3 linked regions of the Homo sapiens genome follow. The protein of the gene in region 3 purifies or fractionates together with the protein of the main gene of each other region. This does not show direct contact. Each region holds a gene or a part of one and is shown on either strand. Other genes may lie near its edges.

What was found. The genes of interacting proteins can lie anywhere in the genome.
Region 1: the proteins of MELK (region 3) and TESK2 purify together in Homo sapiens (affinity purification with mass spectrometry, with the first as the bait; one large-scale study listed by BioGRID). This does not show direct contact.
Region 2: the proteins of MELK (region 3) and KIF13B purify together in Homo sapiens (affinity purification with mass spectrometry, with the first as the bait; one large-scale study listed by BioGRID). This does not show direct contact.

What each region holds. Positions count from the first base shown.
Region 1 is NC_000001.11:45,342,507-45,346,134, forward strand, and holds the end of TESK2 (dual specificity testis-specific protein kinase 2), read right to left. Parts: intron 3,489-3,628; coding exon 3,371-3,488; intron 3,053-3,370; coding exon 2,334-3,052; 3' UTR 1,377-2,333; downstream 1-1,376. Other genes in the region: TOE1 (target of EGR1 protein 1), read left to right, coding at 1-137, 337-496, 576-1,196. UniProt on the Homo sapiens protein: Dual specificity protein kinase activity catalyzing autophosphorylation and phosphorylation of exogenous substrates on both serine/threonine and tyrosine residues. Phosphorylates cofilin at 'Ser-3'. May play an important role in spermatogenesis.
Region 2 is NC_000008.11:29,143,695-29,148,431, forward strand, and holds part of KIF13B (kinesin-like protein KIF13B), read right to left. Parts: intron 3,909-4,737; coding exon 3,698-3,908; intron 2,847-3,697; coding exon 2,684-2,846; intron 1-2,683. UniProt on the Homo sapiens protein: Involved in reorganization of the cortical cytoskeleton. Regulates axon formation by promoting the formation of extra axons. May be functionally important for the intracellular trafficking of MAGUKs and associated protein complexes.
Region 3 is NC_000009.12:36,672,987-36,678,511, reverse strand, and holds the end of MELK (maternal embryonic leucine zipper kinase), read right to left. Parts: intron 3,679-5,525; coding exon 3,575-3,678; intron 1,353-3,574; coding exon 1,175-1,352; 3' UTR 830-1,174; downstream 1-829. UniProt on the Homo sapiens protein: Serine/threonine-protein kinase involved in various processes such as cell cycle regulation, self-renewal of stem cells, apoptosis and splicing regulation. Has a broad substrate specificity; phosphorylates BCL2L14, CDC25B, MAP3K5/ASK1 and ZNF622.

The sequences.
Region 1 (3,628 bases), on a different chromosome or scaffold from region 3:
CACCTCCCTGAGAGTCTGGGAACCTTCACCGCTGACCTGTGTGAGATGTTCCCAGCAGGCATTTATGACACCAAATATGCTGCTGAGTTTCATGCCCGTTTCGTGGCCTCCTACTTAGAATATGCCTTCCGGAAATGGTGAGGAAATGGTTGAGGGAAAGGGGTGGGGCCTGATACGAGTTTATTTCATTCACTTAAGATATTTATTGAGCTCCTACCATGTGCCCAGGCAGTGTTTTAGGTGCTGAGGATTCAGCAGTGAACAAAACAGACCACAAAACCCTGCTCTTATGGAGCTTATATGCTAGTGGACCATTACCCTCTTGCGCTGTTGCAGTGAACGGGAAAATGGGAAGCAGCGGGCAGCTGGCAGCCCACACCTTACCCTGGAGTTCTGCAACTATCCTTCCAGCATGAGGGACCATATTGATTACCGCTGCTGCCTGCCCCCAGCAACCCACCGTCCTCATCCCACCAGCATCTGTGACAACTTCTCGGTGAGAGCACCCACCTGTTTCTTGGGAGGGAAGGTTCTGATGCCTGGAGCCTCTTTCTAAGCCTCTTTCCCACCCCTAGGCTTATGGCTGGTGCCCCCTGGGACCACAGTGTCCTCAGTCTCACGATATTGACCTTATCATTGACACTGATGAGGCTGCGGCAGAGGACAAGCGGCGACGGCGACGACGTAGGGAAAAACGGAAGAGGGCTTTATTGAACCTACCGGGGACACAGACCTCTGGGGAAGCTAAGGATGGTCCTCCCAAGAAGCAGGTCTGTGGGGATAGCATCAAGCCTGAAGAAACCGAGCAGGAGGTGGCTGCCGATGAAACTAGGAACCTGCCTCACTCCAAGCAAGGCAACAAAAATGACTTAGAGATGGGGATTAAGGCAGCAAGGCCTGAAATAGCTGATAGAGCTACCTCAGAAGTGCCAGGGAGCCAAGCCAGTCCTAACCCAGTGCCTGGGGATGGATTGCACCGGGCTGGTTTTGATGCCTTTATGACAGGTTATGTGATGGCCTATGTGGAAGTGAGCCAGGGACCGCAGCCCTGCAGCTCTGGACCCTGGCTCCCTGAATGCCACAATAAGGTATATTTGAGTGGCAAAGCTGTACCCCTCACAGTGGCCAAGAGCCAGTTCTCTCGTTCCTCCAAAGCCCACAATCAGAAGATGAAGCTCACTTGGGGCAGTAGCTGATGCAACTTCCACCTTGCTCTCAGGTGGAACAGAGGTATTTTGGGTCTCTCTAGCCTGAAATGTCATCCTCAACTGCTACTGAGTTTAGGGGAGGGGGAATGTCTTGACAGACATCACTGCATTGCCCTGGACCGCCTCCTTTATCCCAGTGTTTGAGGTACAAGTAAGAAGGCTGACCAGCACCTGTAACACTGACTTTATTTTTAAGTCTGAAAATGTCTTGGGAAAGTTTTACAAAAAAAAAAATCAACAGAAGCAAGTTATGAAAATATTTGACCAGCTTCATCTTTGGTTATTTCTTATTGCAGCTCTGTAAGGACAGACTGTTCCCAAAGCTCCAGCCATGGCAGGAAGGGAAGCAAATCAGTCCCTGTATAAACCATTTAACCAATTGAATGTATCACATGTTGATAAATACATAGAAGCAGGCCCTAGGGCCTACAAAACCAGCCCCACTCCCAACCACAAGGTTGAAAGTCTTATGGGGCAGAACATTAAGACTCCTTTATAAATATGAAAATAGATTAATCAACAGGAAAAGGTCTTTGAATAGGTTAGCTAAGAGCCATGACCACCACGCTGCCTTGCTGTCCCCTTGCATAGAAATGTAGTGACGTGGTCTGACCATGCAGTAAGTGCAAACAGCAATTACTCAAATGTCTTAGAATACTGGCAAGAAGCACCCCAATATTCAGGTCTGGGAAACAGCCATGACCATTACGGCCTCTTGATCAGCTCCATGTTCCACTCAGTAGCTTATATGCCCCAAGAAAAGGCAAGAGACAGACCTGGGGTGGGGAAAGAACCGGGGTAATAGCTGCCTGCCAGCTCAGCCTAGAACTAGACATCCTCTGGTCCTATCTGGGGAAGTACACTGGAGAGGGTCTGGTGGGAGGCAGACCTCCTTGCTGGATTTCAGAGGCTTGGTATCAGCTGTTGGCCCTAACTAGGAAGGCCTCTCACTGCTGCCTCCCGTCATACACAGCCAATGGGCACTGGGAGCCCAGAAGTTGAGCCTGGCTTGGCCTAGCCTGCCTGCTCTGTAGGCTCCAGGGAAGAATCAAGGCTGTGCACCTAGGGGGCCATATGGTTTCAGCTGAAGGTCCATCCCCAAGGTGAGGCAGGGACTAAACCCCCTCACCCATCCTGCTTTCCCTGGGTTTGCAGGCCTATGCCTGAGGTGGAGAAGGTGGCTGGAGTTGAGCCTGCTGGCCTTTCTTCTACCTCCATCTCCTCAGAAGCACCCGCAGGGCATGGACTGGTCCCCTGGGGCCTGGACCCAAAACCATTTTCTTCCTGGAGAATGGAGCAGTCCATAGCCTCATGGGCTTGAGCAGCTGGTAGGGCAGATGCCCGGAATGGTGGGATCTCTTTAACTCTGTACTTGAGACTACTTAGGCGTGGTGGGGGCCCATCAGATAGCGATTCTTCCCGGCCCACAAATGGACAAGCCTCTTGATGCAAGAACTCAGGCGAACCAGGCAAGGAACGCCACCGGCGAATAGGTGGGGCCAGGGGCTCCTGCCAGTCAGCCAGGGGCATAGTTCCGGGCCCTGGTGCATCCAGGTCAAATACCAGAGAGATGACAGACTTGCTGGGCAGGTCAAAAAACTTGATCTTGCCCCCCATGAGGTCCTGGCGAGCACTAAAAGGGTTGACTTTGGGGGTGCGGGCAGCACCATCTCGTGGCCGGTAGTATGGGTCCAAGACACTCACTGTACGTGGGGGCTTACGGGAAAAGATATCTGACTGGCTTCGAGACAGCCAGATGGTACGTCTTGGGCATGGTGACTTGTGGGGGATCTTGTCATCCAGTGAGCTTAGTCGCTTCACCCCAGGTGCTTTCTCCAAGAGTCCTGAAGAATAATCAAGTCTGGGTTACTCTCACTAGTCATAACAAATACAAGCAGCATTTTACCACAGAATGTTTTCACTCATGAAAGCAAAGCTGATACCATGGCCCTGTTTTACCAATGAAGAAACAGACTCAGAGAGGGGAAGCAGTATGCCAAGCCACAGCTCTTAAAAAGGCCAGTACTTTCTGCATCATCTCCTTCCCCTCCCATTTGTTTCTGGACCTGGGATCCTGGCAATCACAACCCTAAGAGGAGAAGGCCCCACATCCGAATTTCCTCCCTTAGGGTTAGGTTGGGCTCCCTGGTCTAATCTCTTACCCCTGGCTGTGGGCTGCAGCTTCCTATCCCTCTCCTGCTCTTCTTCCTGTAGGCGGCTCAGAATTTCCTCCAGGGTCTTCCCAATCTCCACAAAAGATGGGCGCAGTTTGGGATCCATCTGTAGGTATCCACAACAGCCATGAGCTCTGCCCTCCATCTCCCACCCCAAAGATGGCATTTGAGTCTATTTCTGGCATCTTTGAAGATTCAGATGTGCAGCTGAGAGACCTTTTCTAAAGGCCCCAGACAATGAAGGTG
Region 2 (4,737 bases), on a different chromosome or scaffold from region 3:
AATTAGCCAGGCATGGTGGTGGGCGCCTGTAGTCCCAGCTATTCAGGAGGCTGAGGCAGAAGAATCGCTTGAACCCAAGAGGAGGTTGCAGTGAGCCGAGATCGCGCCACTGCACTCCAGCCTGGGCAACAAAGCAAGACTCTGTCTCAAAAAAAATAATAATAATAAAATTAAAAAAAAGTAATGTTCTATTATGCAAGTATCACACCTCCCCCCCAAAAAAAGTATGCTCTGAAGTTTTTCCAGCTTATAAGAGCAATGTGGATTTTTTTCAGAGTAGAACTTGAGCAATGTGTTTTTAATGTAGAAAAAATTTTAGAACTTTTAAAAAACCACAAAGTTAAAAAAAAAAAAGCCCCTATACATTTCCCCGAGGGAGACATATCTACTGGTTATCTAATCAATTTAGGTTTACTGGCTTAATTTTTCAAATGTTCTACTTAAAACTGAAGAGAACTTTGAAATACATTGATGTTTCATTAACATCTTGCCTACAATCATTTTCTAAGAAAAAAATTTAAATAATAAAACAAACATTTGAGAATTCTTACGGTCAAAATGCGTGTGTGTGTTTTTTTTTAATTGAGACAGAGTCTCTTTCTGTCGCCCAGGCTGGGGTGCAGTGGCCCAATCTCGGCTCACTGCAACCTCCGCCTGGGTTCAAGTGATTCTCCTGCCTCAGCCCCCCAAGCAGCTGGGATTACAGGCGCCTGCCACCACGCCTGGCTGATTTTTGTATTTTTAATAGAGATGGGGTTTCATCATATTGGCCAGGCTGGTCTCGAACTCCTGACCTCAGGTGATCCGCCCACCTTGTCCTCCCAAAGTGCTGGGATTACAGGCATGAGCCACCATGCCCGGCCATCTTACAGTCAAAATTAAAGGCCCTCCTACCTTATATTCAGCCAGCCAGTGAATAAATACAAAAATCCCATTTGTGACCTGTGTGGGTAGTGGCTTTCCTGGGGGAGAATGCTGGACCTGGGACTATAATAGCAACGGGCAATATGGTGCAGCTACCATAACTTAGCCCTCTTGCAAAACTGGAAATAAGAAAAAAATTCACCAGAGAAGAGTTCACAGAATGGACAGGACTTTAAACAACTTTTCAAATACCAAAAAATAGTCTGTTGCACGAAAGACTACAGAGTCAGCCTAACTAAGGAGAGATGCCAGGCGACATGAGTTCTTCCAGGCGTTGACATGGCTGCCCCAGTGCAGAGCCACACCTTTCAACAAAGCCCAAAAGAGGTTACGGAGAAAAGGGCTGCGGTCATGCTTACTGGGGAAAAATCTTTCAGGTTTCTGCTTTTTTCAACTTATACACTATAAAATCAAAGAGGATCTTGTACTTCTCAGCCTTCAAGGAGAAACTAGGCCCTGAACCTTCTCCTTGTGACTGGCCTTCCTCTTCGGTTTTTGGTGAGTCCTACTGTACCCAGACTTTGCCCTACAAATACTAGTGTTCTAATTAAGTAAAAATTTTCAAAATACACACAGAGTATACAAAAACAATGATCTGTAAAGTAACGATCATATCATATTTACAATACCTTTCTCAAAATACTAAGAATCATATTTGCCAAATATCTAACCCTGTACAAAACGCTGACCTTGATGCTATGATGTCATAGGGAAAGATGTAATCCTTGCTATCAAATTAGAATAATATCCGCCTGTAATCCCAGCACTTTGGGAGGCCAAAGCAGGTGGATCACTTGAGGTCAGGAGTTTGAGACCAGCCTGGCCAACACAGCAAAACCCCATCTCTACTAAAAATACAAAAATTAGTCCAGCGTGGTGGCACACACCTGTAATCCCAGATACTGAGGAGGCTGAGGCAGGAGAATCGCTTGAACCCAGGAGGCAGATGCTGCAGTGACCCAGGATCACACCACTGCATTCCAGCCTGGGTGACAGAGTAAGACTCCCTCTCAAACAAAAAAAAGAAAAATAGAATATCCAAGATGGATTGATTAAAGTTTTGCTGTGTTGACTACCGCAGGCTAAACAGAACACACGGATCCACAAAAAATTCATCTGAATAGAAAATTCTACCTAATCCATCAAAAATTATGTATGAATGTGATCAAGAGCTAGAAAAGAACCTCAAAAAAAAAAAAAAAAGATGAAGGAAAAAAACCCAACTGAATGGCAAAGATAGAAGATTGTGATGGGACTTTCCCCCTACATTTTATTAAATTTATTATACCAAAAAAAGTATGATCCTGAATATATACATGACACCATGACACAACTAATGAGCAGTTTTACAGAGCAAGCTATTCCAAGTAGAAAATAACATAAGCAAAATGAACACCTAACTTGTGGAGAAGGGGTTGTAGAGTGGTAGCATAAGGAAGGAAAAAAAGACATTCGGGGAAGATTAATCAGAAAAGACTTCTAAGAAAGAATTTAAACAGATTTGAAGGAAGAAAGTTGAGTGAAATGAACTGTCAGGGCCAGGTGAGATGCAGAGTATATTCCCCTAGCAGATAAAATATACATACACTCAAAGGTAGAGAATGGAAAAGGAAGTCAATTCTACCCAAAAGCATGGAGGACAAAGGATCTGGACTTGGGGCAGGCACAGACAGGGATCTGAAGCTTAAATAACACCAGGAAATATCAGGCGATCTTATCCAATGAGATCTTTGTTTTTTTCAAGGAACGGCAACCTCACCTTCCTGTTGGCATCCAGGCTGGAGGCTGGAATCTGTAGGGTAACTTTGTATTCTGTTCTTTTATCCAGCTCCTCAGCAATGTAATTAGCTTCTCTCACCAATAGATTGGCCTTAACAATTTGTTCCCTCAGCCTCATCAGGCTGTTATTCAACGTTGCTTCTCTAAAAAAAAATAAAGAAGCGGCAGAGGTAGGGAAGAGATTAACACAAAGCAGCTAGTCAGAAAATCATACAGTGGTAGTACATCATTGCCAAAGTGTGAATTGAGCTTTTTCCGTGGTCGTCTGCACGCAGGGACTGTGTTGCTGACACTGACCCATGCACACGCTTGAACCTCAACTACACGATAAGCACTGGAAAGCAGCCACACAGCAAGCCGGCTGTAGATAACAGCAGTGCCCCTGTATGCAGATCACCAGGGGATCTTCATCAACTCAAGATTCTGTCTCAGCAGGTCTGAGGTGGAGGCCTGAAATCCTACATTTCTATCAATCTCCAGGTAAAAGGGAAGCTGCCTGCCTGCAGACCAAACTTTAAATAGTATGAGGTTAGTGAAGTACAGTCTGCAACCATGGGATAAGGCATTTCAATGCAATGCTAATTAGCCCATACAGAGATCAAATTTGCAATCTGCATCTCATCAGCACCATGCTTTACCTACCTGAGCTAATCAGTCCAGATAACCAACTTTGTTTTTCTAAAAATCATCTACCCAAGCTTCAGAACCTAAAGCATAATACAATGATCAAGTGTACTTCTATATCCAAATCCAAAAGCCATACCAACTGAAAATGGAGCAACACCTAACACCAACAGTTTTAAATAATGCAATATAAATGGGCAATTCCCCTTTTAAAAACAAATGCAAAGTGGTTCTTGGCTGTTAACACTTATCTTTTAACATAATTCTTTTGTAAGCACCATCTTAATGTTCCCATTTGACACTTTCCCTAGGTGTGTTAGAGGTGGCAAGCCTGAGCTATAAAGTTAACAGGCCCCTCTGTGCCGCCTACCTCTCCTCAGCCCACTGTCTTAAGCGTTGCTGAGCGCTGGGCGAGTGGAAAGAAAACCTGTCCATGCTCCGGCAGTTCTGCTTCTCAGGAGACAGCCTTCTCCGGAGCTGCTCCAATTCGTGCTCATACATAAGCCTCTGGCGCTCCAGTGCAGATCGTTTTTCTTCTTCATGCTGTTGTTCTAAGCTGTTTAATATGGACTGCATCGGATCTAAACACATTTTTAAAAAAGATACATGATCGAGAGTTACAACATAATAAACTTCAAATGTTGTTCTATATGGTAATGTTGTCTGTCATCTTAACTATACCACCTAATACTTTAAAGACAATTTGGCATAAACTTAGCTTTCCTGACTTTCAATCACTCATGTTGTTATATATTCTCAGACATATCCTCAACCATCTTCCCTGCAGAAAAAGCAGGTCTATTATATGTTCTACACATAACCTAAGACATGGCGAATCCTCCAGAAATACAATCATAAGCCAATGACAGGCAAGTTTCTAAAGCAGAGAAATTTGACCGGGCACAGTGGCTCACACCTGTAATCCCAGCATTTTGGGAGGCCGAGGTGGGCGGATCACCTGAGGTCAGGAGTTTGAGACCAGCCTGGCCGACATGGCGAAACCTTGTCTCTATTGAAAATACAAAAGTGAGCCAGGCATGGTGGTGTGCACGCCTGTCATCCCAGCTACTCAGGAGGCTGAGGCAGGAGAATCGAATCACTTGAACCCAGGAGGCAGAGGTTGCAGGGAGCCGAGATCGTGCCACTGCACCCTAGCCTGGGCGACAGAGCGAGACTCTCTCACAAAAAATTAAAATAAAATAAACAAGAGAGATTCTATCCATCAGATCAAAGTGATCTGACTGCATATTAAGGCAGAACATTTTGATAAATATAAATTAAAGCCAAAGACACAAAATACAGAGAATAGCAACATAAAGATTTTCCTTTTTGTTAACATTTGAAAGTCCCCAATCATAAACATTTTTAACACTCTACCGTTTTTTTTTTTTTAAAGAGAGAACGTCTTGC
Region 3 (5,525 bases):
CTGCTTGAGCCCAGGAGGTCGAGGCTGCAGTGAGCTGAGATCACGCTACTGCACTCCAGCCTGGGTGACAGAGTGAGACTGCGTCTCAAAAAAAAAAGAAAGAAAGAAAGAAAAAAAGTCATACTCCTCACTCTTCTCTTTCTGCTGAACTCCTATATATCCTTCAATGACAAATGCTGTTTCTTCCAAGAATTCATTTCTAATTCCATGCAAAGTGGGTGGGTCCCGCTATGCTACAAATACAGTTAGTAAATCCTTGGGTTTACTAGACAGTAGCAGCTTCAGCCTGAGGACCTAATGCTTGTAAGCACTTAGTAAACATTTATTGAATAAATGAATGACAAAACATTCCCTTCACTACTGACCAGAAGGAGTGCTATTTTTTCTCCAACTAGTTTAATTGGTGAAATCCATACCAATATAACTTGAGTTCTAGCCTTTGGAGACCAATAAAATGAAATAAAAATACAAATTTGGGGCCAACATTGAGACTTAGGGAAATTACCATAAAGTAACATTTCAGGGGGGGTTCATAGTTCGGATACTTATCATTTGTTGACCAAACATACTTAAAGTCAATACTCTTTTATTCAACATATTAAATGTGTTGTTTAACTCTGGTAACCACAGCTGTGACAGTTAACGATCTCAATAAATCCTACTTAAATCAGACAGGAAAAAATTATGCAAATGAATTCTTATCTGTTTTTCTGCCCAAGGCATATTTGATAACAGATAAAACATACTCCAAATAGTCTCTACTTAATAGTCAGGAAGCCATTTGAGGTTTTATTTGGATCAAAATCAAATACAAAAAAGAGAAGCCTGCTATATTCACAAATGGTTTTATTTCAGAAAGAAATTACACATTACAAAGAGACATAGTTAAGAGCTTACATTCACATATGGAAGTGAATCTAAGAAAGTCAACAATTATTAATATACAAAACCACATGATTAAAAAAGACAGTAACATAATGACAGATGGGCTTGATTTAGATTCATACACAAAATAATATCTTTTGTTTAAAAACAAAGAGATATTGGTCTTAAGATAGCTCTTTAGAAACAAGTTGGTAGTTCCAATGAACTTTAAAATCAAAGCGATCATAACAGTCTTTATGTAGGCTGTATCACACCCACACTCATCCGGCAGGATGGAAGAATCCATCAATTATACCTTGCAGCTAGATAGGATGTCTTCCACTAATCTTTTGTAAACCCAGGCATCGCCCTTAAGCCGCTGCCTCCTGATACCCACCACATCGGGTTTTTGAAGCTGGCACACTTCTAATTCAAATTGCATTGTCACTTTCCCAAAATCTGACTGTGTTTGACACTTCAGTGTATAACTGTGAAAAACAAGATAAGAAGCTAGTTAGTAGGAGAACCATATTCTGTATAAGAGTTTTCTAAGCCTCTAGGAGGCCAGTGGAGGAAATGAACCATTATTTCATATTAAGCAATGTATTACTGTTTACAGTTTCCAAATGACCTAGCTATGCTTTAGTAATAGAGTATGACTGGTGTTTTCCCAGAAACTGAACTAGGATCCTAAGAATAAGCATGAAAAGGCTTTATTACAAGTCTCCCTTGCTCCAAAGAAAAGCCCCTGTTTCATAGCTATACATGCCATTCATGCTCAAGAAATCTGGCATTCTTTATGCAATCCTTTCAACGTGTAATCCGCAAACATTGGGCATTTCCACAACATTCACAACAAAGGAAAGCGCAAGAAAGATAATATTTCATGTGTGTGAGCCTTGTCAGAAACTTGTCTTTCATATAAATAAAGCTGAAGCCAGTAACCTGTCAGAAAGGCACGTGTGTTTTTGAGGTTTTTCTAATTAGTAATGAGAGATAACCTCTTATGACGATCATCACATCACTTTATGGCAGAAAGAAAAGCAGAAGAAAAAGCCCAAGGAAATGGTATATTCCCATAACTGAAACGTACGGCATTTATAGATAGAACTGCCGCATTATCTACTCTGAGAATGGAAAGGCCCAGTCAAAATGAAGCCTGAAACACATCTTAAGACATACGTATGATCCTGCAAAGCTGTATAAATTTAATTCATGTAATAATATTTAATTAGTTTACATTCTATTTTAGAGTTTTGTTTGTCTTACCAATCTTCAATAAATAGGACTGATTTTAAGTTTCAATTCCCTAAATACTTAAGGGTTCCTGATTAAGTGCTGTTCCACAGATGTGTGGAGAAGTTACATTGTTTCAGTTATGTACTTTTTTCTGTTTCATACTGTTATGTACCAAAATATTCTTTTTCTTACTAACTTAGTCATGTGTTTTGGGAAAGAGGCTTGATCTCTCAAAAATAAGCAGTCAACATCAAAAATGCCAAAAGGAGCACCCTGAAGTTAAGATTCTTGACAAGAAGATGAGGCATAGAACAATTTAGTCACATGTTAGATAATAGATCATTGAGAGACCTGTGACAGAGGTATGCCCAGAGGCTCATAGCCCCAAGCATGAAGAAGAGATCAGAGTGGGAGAGATGTGTTCTAATGAAGCCTGAGAGGAATGCCAGGGTTCACAGAAGGAATGCTTGCCAACATTTACAGATAACTAAAAACTAAAAATTATATCTGCACAAGATTGTTTCTTCAAATCTTACTCTATATTGACTATTCTATTTACATGTTTAAATCCATGCATGTCTCTTCTGGTTGCTTTAATAAAGAAATTTTAAAGGGAAATAATTGAATGGAAATGCTTAGAAATACGGCCATCTTGGGTGACCAGAAGAGGCCTGGCTATTGAGACCAGGAGATCATAACCAAGGAGGCTTTGATGGCAGTTCCTTCAACAGCGGGAGAGAGGTAAGGTGAAAAAACTTCCTAAAGCACTGAAAACCCAGCCCTGTAAAACAGCCAGTCATGAAGAGAAGGATTCTGTATAAATCCCTGATTCATTTGAAATGTCTCACAAATTTAGATTATAATTTATAAATATTATTGTAAAGCAGACAATCAAAGGAAAATAGAGGATCTACAAGAAAGCCAGAAGAATTTTGAATTTTCCTATTTTGAAATAAAGTGGGACAATATCTGTGCTTCTAAAACTTTTATAGCTTGAACCAAACAAAAGAGAATAAATTATAAGCAATAACACTACCTCAAAAGCTTTTGGGAATGAGGTGGGAGAAATACATTTTTTCTAAAGCACAGGGGTGAGGAGATCAACTTCTATTTTCTCTTTTTTTTGAGACAGAGTCTCGCTCTGTTACCTATGCTGGAGTGCAGTGGTGTGATCTCAGCTCATTGCAGCCTCCACCCAGGTTCAAGTGATTCTCATGCCTCAGCCTCCCACGTAGCTGGAACTACAGGCATGTGCCACCATGCCCAGCTAATTGTTTGTATTTTCAGTAGAGACAGGGCTTCTCCATGTTGGCCAGGCTGAACTTGAACTCTTGGCCTCAAGTGATCTGCCCACCTCAGCCTCCCAAAGTGCTGGGATTACAGGCGTGAGCCACCGCGCCCAACCAACTCCTATTTTCTCAAAGTCCAAAAGATACTAATAAATGCAACAGCTTGTAAATGTGCTTCTTACCCCTTTTGTACAAAGTCAACATGCTTCTTTGGAAGAATAGACATTATTTCATTCAACAGTTGATCTGGATTCACTAATCTAGTTGTAGTCACGTTATAGTGAAGCTAAGAAAAGAAAAAGAAGAGATGAGAAGTAAATTTTTACATCAACACAAAGACCATCACACCAGATCAAGAGTTCCAAAACTCCTCAATATAGTACTGTTTCAAATGGAACTATTTCCTAAAAAATATCAAAGGAATTTACAGTCAACTCTTAGTGAGTTAATGGCCCACTGGGAGAGCTTGGAGAAGTTATGGTTATTAGTAAACACACCCATAGCTTCCTTTTCATACTTTCATCTTCCTCTCCTACCAATCCTTTTAAAGAAATAAATATTAAAGAGCACCCATCTAACTGTTTGAGCTTTGCCTATTTTCCCCTTCCCACACTATTTTAAGAGACATTAACAGTCCTGAAATGTATACCACGGAAAGATAAACAAACACCATACAAAGTTTGCTTTGTACCTAGTTGGATATGTTTCCTTAACTCTTTCTGGATTATTTAAAGAATATTATAGAGTTCCAGGAGCTGATTTTATGACAGTTCTATGAGGAAATAAATGTAACAGGTATTCCTTTAAAAAAGTGATGTCATATTATTTTTTCTCATTGACTGAGAGCCTAATTCTCAGAGATAATTTCATTCCTAATTGATATTTATCCTTCATTCATTCAACAACTACTTTTGAATGTTTACTATGTGGTAGGCACTGTTTTAGTGGGTCCTGGACACACAAAAATCCCTCCCTTCCTGGTAAGTACCTTCACTGTCAAACAAAACCATAGTTTCTATATCTTTCAGGTTTGAGTTCATTGTATAAATAACAAAATGCCTAGGAAGAAAAGTATCCAACTATCTTACTTTTCAAAATAAGAACCTATGGCCCAAAGAAGAGATACAAATTTCTTAAGGTAGTGCTTCTCATAGTGTGATACAAGATAGACAAGGTAATTCTGGGTGGCACATGGATAAATATTTTTAAATATGTATTTGTTCCCAACTGATTTCGAAAACATAATTAACAACAACAACAAAAAAACCCTAATGATATAAAGGTTTCCTTTTAAATAAATTTGAGTTTTAAAAAATTATCTTGATTGTGGCAATGGTTTCACAGATGTTATATATAATGCCAAAGCATATTAATTGTACTTTAAAATATGCACAGTTGGCCGGGTGTAGTGGCTCATGACTGTAATCCCAGCACTTTGGGAAGCCAAGGCAGGAGGATTACTTGGGCTCAGGAGTTCAAGACCAGCCTGGGTAACATAGTGAGACCCTGTCTCTGCAAAAAAAATTAAGAATTAGCCAAGTGTGGTAGCACGCATCCCAGCTACTCAGGAAGCTGAGGCAGGAGGATGACTTGAGCCCAGAAGGTTGAGGCTGCAGTGAGCTATGATCATGCCATTGCACCACAGCCTGGGCAGCAGAGCAAGACTCTGCCTCAAAAAATTAACAACAAATAAAATAAAATAAAATATGTGCAAGTTTATTATATGTCAGTTATATCTCTATAAATCCATTTGTTAAAGGAGAGTCAACATAATGAAAATACCAGATAAATAATAGTGCACCCAATACACCCATAGAGCAAATGTCGTGAAACTGAGTGTTAACGAAGGGACCCTCTCTTTCTTGGTTCCTGATCCAGCACTCTTTTCACCAAACTAAATTGGCTCTGTTAAGATGATATTAATAATAAACTGAACACCTTCAAATCACAATATATTACTGCTTTGGTAAAATAAAGAATGAATCCTAATTTATCTACTTAAATTTTGGATTTTTTATAGACTGCTTCCTAAAAGAGGACATAACTACATATGATTTGCTATCTTAAAAAACTAAGGTATTATTTCTACTATCCTTGCAACTCTTCCGGTAAGTGTATAGTTTTTAGTACAGT